2 linked regions of the Homo sapiens genome follow. The protein of the gene in region 1 purifies or fractionates together with the protein of each later gene. This does not show direct contact. Each region holds a gene or a part of one and is shown in the gene's direction. Other genes may lie near its edges.

Region 1 (3,500 bases):
ATTAACATATGTAAATTTAAAAAATTAGCTAGGAGGTTCGAGGTATCCTAGGAAGCAATGCAGACTGTGAGAACATAATCTATATCCCAAATGTACAGAACAATCCCACTGGAAGGGGTCAGGGAAAAAGCTGCTGACCTAAAATAACTTAGGAATGAGTGGAGTTTTTTTTGTTTTGTTTTGTTTTGAGACAGAGTCTCACTCTGTCACCCTGACTGGAGTGCAGTAGAGCGATCTCAACTCACCACAACTTCTGCCTCCTTGGTTCAAGCGATTCTCCTGCCTCAGCCTCCCTAGTAGCTGGGACTACAGGCACATGCCACCAGGCATGGCTAATTTTTTATTTTTAGTAGATATGGGGTTTCACCATGTTGGCCAGGCTGGTCTCAAACTCCTGACCTCAGGTGATCCGCCTGCCACAGCCTCCCAAAATTCTGGGATTACAGGTGTGAGCCACAGTGCCCAGCTGGGTATGAGTGGAGTTTGAAAGTAAAGGCAATAGAAACTGTACATGAGCACTGTACATGTATTTGGGTCAATAAAGGTTTTTTCCCACAGGAATATGAGTTAACAATTCTGCTGCTGCTATACATGTATATTTGAATCAATTAAATAAATGGATGAGGCATGGGGGAGCAAGTTTCTTGCTGTTGGAGGGAACTTCATAGTTAAGCAAGAGAGGGGGCCACAGTGATCCACGTGGGAATGGATTGAAGCTGGAGACCTCAGCGTGAACTCACGTTTACCTTACTATGAACAGAGACATTTACGTGTCAACGTGTTTAAAGATATGTGGAAATACGCACAGGTTAGTGTCTATTTCCTTGCTCTGTTAGCTGAGAGGGCCTCGGAGGAAGGACACCCTGGAAGCAATGAGCACACCTGGTACCCAGATCTTGGCTTCTAGCACCATTCTCCAGGAAAGCAGCAGATCGTGGTTTCTAGCACCATTCTCCAGGAAAGCAACAGATCTTGGTTTCTAGCACCATTCTCCAGGAAAGCAACAGATCTTGTTTCTAGCACCATTCTCCAGGAAAGCAGCAGACCTTAGTTTCTAGCACCATTCTCCAGGAAAGCAACAGATCTTGGTTTCTGGCACCATTCTCCAGGAAAGCGACCAAGGCTTCTTGGAGAAGTGGATGGTTCTAGATTCGGACAGGAGATTTACAAGATGAGCCCAGAGCATCTCATAGTGCCAGGAGGGATGGAAGGGATTTTTTTTACAAATTCTATATTGAAGGGAGTATGTCACTTAAATGGGACATGGGAGCTAACTGGGAGAGCTCCCGATGGCCAAAGCTGAAGCCTTTTGAGCAAGAAAAGAAAGTAACATTGAATTATAACCCAAAGTATGAAACGAACTTCCACAAGTTCATACTGATGTAAATGAATGATTGGAGGAGCAAAAAGAAGGAAGAAAGGAAGGAAGACAGGTTGGCTGGATGTTGGAAGGATAGAAGGAAGGAAGAAGGGAGAAGAGACAAATCTCCCATATGCAGAAGAATTCCAAATCATGTCTGTAGATTCTCCACTACCAACGACACAGAACCTGACGCCCCAGTCCTGAAGTTTGGGTTGCGCGCAGCGCTTTCTTATAAAGAAAACGGGGAGAAAGAGCAGTCTTTGCGTGGAGAAGCCCGAAAACAGAACCCTAGCCAGGTGAACAAGGTCAGCATCAATAGGAAGTCATGATGGGGTCTGAGAGGCGGCTGCAGTCAAGAGGATCCTGTGCAGACAGGAGGCTGAGTGGAGTGTGGCGTGCTGGGTGGGATCCAGACAGGAGGCTGAGTGGAGTGTGGCATGCTGGGTGGGATCCTGAAAAAAAAAGAGACATTAGGGGAAAACAAGAAAATCCAACCAAAGTATGGACTCTCGTTAACAATACAGCATCAGTGTTGCTTCATGAATTGGAACAAAAGTACCCTACTAAAGCTAGATGTTAATAATAGGAAAAACTGGGTTGGTGCAGGGGATTCCGCATACTAGCTTTAGAACGTTTTTGTAAAGCTGAATCTTCTCTAAAAATAAAGTTGATTGAAACAAAAAAGGGGAAATAAAGTAAAAATAAATCATGCCAAAAAAAAAAAAAAAAAAAAAAGGAAAGGAAAAACAAGGCCAGGCATGGTGGCTTACGCCTGTAATTCCAGCACTTTGGGAGGCAGAGGCGGGCGGATCACTTGAGGTCAGGAGTTGGAGACCAGCTGGCTGACATGGCAAAATCCTGTCTCTTCTAAAAACACCAGAATTAGCAGGGTATGGTGGTGGGCACCTGTAATCTCAGCTACTTGGGAGTCTGAGGCAGGAGAATAGCTTGAATCTGGGAGGCGGAGGTTGCAGTGAGCTGAAATCGCACCACTGCACTCCAGCCTGGGAGACAGAGTGAGACTCTGTCTCAAAAAGCAAAACAAAATGACCACCCCCACTGCTTTGGTGCCATGTATTTTGTGTCATTTGTCCTCCTGGAGGATTGTACCTTAATGAAAAGGATGCATGGCCAGTTATAAAGAGTTTCAGATGCTCTGTTTGAGGATAATGATGGAGTAATCTTCAGCAGAAAGGGGACAGGGACCCATACGCTAATCCATGGCACGGATTCTACCATCTACCCCGGAACCACAGCCAGGGGCCTGGCATGTAGGAGGTGCTCACTCATTATTTGGTAAGAAATGCATAAATAAATGGATCTTGATTCTAGATATTTTGTTGTTGAAATTGCAATGGGTCTTTGTTCAAATTTAAAACTTGAATGATTTTTTTTTCATTTATTTAAAGAATAAGGAGTTATTCACTGGTTGGGTTGATCCATTTAGGAAATAAACATACAGGATGCTCAGTAACATTTGAATTTCAGGGAAACAGTGAATCTTTTTTAGCAGAAGTATGTCCTATGCAATAGTTACACTAAAAATTTATTCATTGCTTATCTTAAACTGAAGAGATGTCCTGTGTTTTGTCTAGCAAACTCCTCTATAGAAAAGGAATCTCAGGCCAGGTGTGGTAGCTCATACCTGTAGTCCCAGCACTTTGGGAGGCCGAGGTGGGCAGATCACCTGAAGTCAGGAGTTTGAGACCAGCCTGGCCCCGTGTCTACTAAAATACAAAAATAAAAAATATTAAAAAAACATTAGCCAGGCGTGGCAGTGGGCACCTGTAATCTGGGCTACTCAGGAGGCTGAAGCAGGAGAATTGCTTAAACCCGGGAGGTGGAGGTTGCAGTGAGTTGAGATCATACCACTGCACTCCAGCCTGGGAGACAGAGCAAGACTGCCTCTCAAAATAAAGATAAAAATAAAAATAAAAGTAGAAAAGTCATCTCAGCCGGCGAGAATATTTGTTGTCTAAATATTCCACAAACTGCAAAGCAAGGCTGGAGGGGGTCAACTGGGTACTAATGGCAAGAGAGGCAGGGGAAACGGCAAACCAAAGACAGCTCTAATCCCTGAAGACACCACTGTCTGCGTATGTGTAGGCTGATTTGTATGTAATGCACGTGTATGTGT
Region 2 (3,500 bases), on another chromosome or scaffold:
CCATCCACTCACATCCGGGAGCACTTTTTACTACACCTGGAATCTCCTGCCTGCTGGGGCCTGCCCTGTACCCTTCATCCTCAGGACCCACCTCACCAGTCAAGGAAAAATTACTCCAGAGGGCTCCACCTCCCCCTGCTTCCTCACCACGGGGCACAGCAGAACTTGGTACCTATGTCCTCTGCTTCAGGTTTCCATTGCAACCAATTTTTGTGTCTGCAGCTTGCCCAGCCTTCAGCACGAATAGTGCATGCCCCTTTTCCACTTGCCAAAAGGGAACTGGTGAGGATGGGCTGTAGAGGTCTTGTTAGGTTGTGCGCGGCCCCATCAGAAGTCCTGATGTGCCTGCCTTCCTCCAGGAACCCCACCTTGGACCATGACCATGGCCACCCTCTCCATCCAGGTGGAGGAGCGGAGCCTGACTCTGAGCAGAGCAGACCTGGGCACTGAGCACTGAGTTCAGGGTTTGCTGTCCGGACTCTTCTAAGGTGGAAAAATCGCTTTGGATAAATGAAGCCGAGATACATAGGCAACAGGAATCCTAGCAGAAAGTGTTAACATAAGCTCCAGTTCAAAAGAAGGCAGGTGTTCCTGGTTTCATCAGATAAAGGTCCATCGTGGATGAACTGCTCCCCAAGAAAAGTGACAGAAACACGCTGGGCTTCCTTAGGATTTGGTTAGCTGCTTGGTATCAAGCCTAATTTAGGAGTAAAGTCTTGCTGACCTTTAAACCAACCAACTCCAACCACACTGTTGATATTTCCTTTATTTTATTATTACTGAGTTACTCAGGAAATTATGGGGTTATTCTCCGTCTTATGATTATTAGTATTAATGATCATTATCAGTGTTAATAGCCATTTACATGATGCTTCGTTGTTTATGAAGCTGTAACTCGCATGGTCTCATTTACTAGCAGTGAATTCCTTGGAGAAACCCAACACGTATCATCCTCATTTTCTTGGTGAATCCATCCCTTTTAATAAGGTATTGACAACTTCTCTAGTAACCTACCAGAAAATTCCCATGAAGAAACAGTTGAATTCACCAGAATTTGGAATTGGATAACAGCTAGATTGTTTTTTATTCTTGTTGTTTATTTCATTCCTCTTGCTATGCACTGAGAAGAACGTTTCATTCTAAAAATATAGAAAATGGTGTGTTATAAAGACACTAGCAAAGACAAGCTCTATCCAGGGAGGGAGTCTACGTAGTGTCCAAGGAGAAGACGCAGATTGGGCTTCTCGAGCTGTAACCTTGGGATTGGTTAGAATGCAGATTTTGATTCAGTAGGTCTCAAGTAAGGCTTAAGGTTTATGCATTTCTGACAAGCTGCGGATGAAGACCTGGAAATCTGGTTGGTGGATAGAAGTTGTTGAATTGGGATGCCTCTTTCCAGGTGTCTGCACTTTGAGTCAGGCGGCTGTGACCCTGAGGGAGTTCAGAGGTGTGGCTGTCTATAGACCACACCTGGAGAAGTCAGCCTAGAGGGAGGTTTCCTGATCCTTAGTCATCAACTAATCAAGGGGAGAGGTTAAAGGTGTTGGTTCCTAGCAGGGACTGTGTTGGAATGTCGGTCAGAGAGGCTTCTCCAACCCTGCCTACACCTCTGCATTTAGCAGGGTGGGGAGTGGAGGCTCTCGCACCCATAAGTAGATGTTAGGATAAGTAATGTGTGCTTTAATAAGAATTGGAGATTGTGCTTTTGAAGTTCTGGCTGGAGAATAAGGTTTGGTACCTGGTGGAATGATTGCTAAGTTGTATTGTCACTGTCTTTAAAAACAGTGATATTTTGTGTGTGTGTGCATGTGCATGTGTGTGTGTATTTTCACCACCAGGTTGTCAAAATGCCCCTGTTTTTAAGAAAATAATCTGTCCATCCAGTTCTTCCTCATTCTGGCCTGGGGTGAGCCCAGCATGTGCCTCTGAGGGAACCAGGGGGAGAACCTGTGTTGCGGCGGGCAGGTGAGTCTGGTGAGTACCTGAGGCAGGGAGGGCTGAGCAGGTGGCAGGGTGTGTGCTTTGGAGCAGGTGTGGCCTGAGCAGTTGTGAGCCTGTAGCCAAAGCAAAGCGCCTGGTGAGCAGAGCAGGGGGCACCAAAAGAAGGCCCGGACGGTGGCCCAGAGGGGCCGAGGCCTTGTCTTAGCACTCCAGGGCTTCATCTGCAAGGATGTGGGCCAGCAGAGTTTCTGGGAGAGGGCAGATCGCACATATTTTCAGCTTTGCAGGCCACGCAGTCTATCGCAAGTACTCAACTGCAAAAAGCCATTCGTAGATGGTGTGGCTGTGTGCCAATACAATGATTTATGAACACTGAAGTTCATATAATTTTTTATGTGTCCCAAAATATTATGCTTTTGATTTTTTTCCAACCACTTAAAAATGTGAAAGCTATCCTCAGCTTGCAGGCTGCACAAAGACAGATGGCAGGCTGGATTTGACCCGAGGCCCAAGTTGGCCCACCTCTGGCCTACAGGCTGTGTTGGTCTAATAGGATCTCAGTGTACAGAATCTTTCATTGTCAAATTTTAGAAATTGTCATAAGATGGCTTGGCACAAAGTCTAGCACATAAGCTATATACCACCATGGGGAGAATGGAGAAGTTGGGATTATTCCACATTAGGGACATAAAACCCACTTGTGGCTATTCTCTCTAAAGCTTTCTCTTTGGAGAAAAAAGTGTGGTGAATAGGTTCCCATAACTCTCTAATACGCAAACACATGCTACAATAAATTGATTTCAGATAGAGATAAGACCCTTCGACTCACAGCAGAGAGTGTTGCATTTCTCCGGGACCCTCACAGCAGCCTTTCTGAGCAGTTGGGAGAGGCATTAGACTCGTTTTATAGAGGAAGAAGCTCCTGCCCACAGAACTGGTGTCACTAACCCAAGGCGACAGTTCTACCAAGCTGGGGGCCAGGATTCACATCCGGATCTTCCTATTCCAGCTAGCGTTTTTGCTGTCACTGTCTCATACAGTCCTTTGGAAGAACTGTGTCCTAAAATGTCATTTGCAAGCCATTTACTAGAACATGGAAGTTTTCTCTTTAGAAAAAGAAAAATGTGGTGAACAGATTCCCAGGTTGCCCAAGATGAGATGACCCTTTCATCTGTAACACAGCAGAACCATAGTCCTGGAGCTTCGGTGTGAGTTCTAAGGCCCTGGGGCTGTGAGAAGTAGGAAGGAGTAGGTAAAAAAGCAAATTTCTTTGCCTGAGAGTGGCCCCAGACAAAATTCCCAAGAGGCTGGCGATGTCCGAGCTGTCTTCTGCCCTGTGGGCACCCTGCCCCCTCCCCGTCTCTGGCCATCTGGGCCCTCTCGCTTGTTCCCTCCCTCTGTGACACTCAGCTGAGGGGCGTCTTGTGCAGTGGGGCCCGGCTGGCCACCGCCTGCTAGTGTCAGGGCAGGAGCGAGCGCCGGTGGGGACGAAGGCACAGCCCACACCGGCTCCTGCCCCGGACTCAGCCACCCAGCACCGGCTCCTGCCCCGGACTCAG

What was found. The genes of interacting proteins can lie anywhere in the genome.
Region 2: the proteins of GLT6D1 (region 1) and GLB1L2 purify together in Homo sapiens (affinity purification with mass spectrometry; one large-scale study listed by BioGRID and IntAct). This does not show direct contact.

Annotation. Positions count from the first base shown.
Region 1 is NC_000009.12:135,633,041-135,636,540, reverse strand, and holds part of GLT6D1 (putative glycosyltransferase 6 domain-containing protein 1), read left to right. Parts: intron 1-3,500.
Region 2 is NC_000011.10:134,338,488-134,341,987, forward strand, and holds part of GLB1L2 (beta-galactosidase-1-like protein 2 isoform b precursor), read left to right. Parts: intron 1-3,500.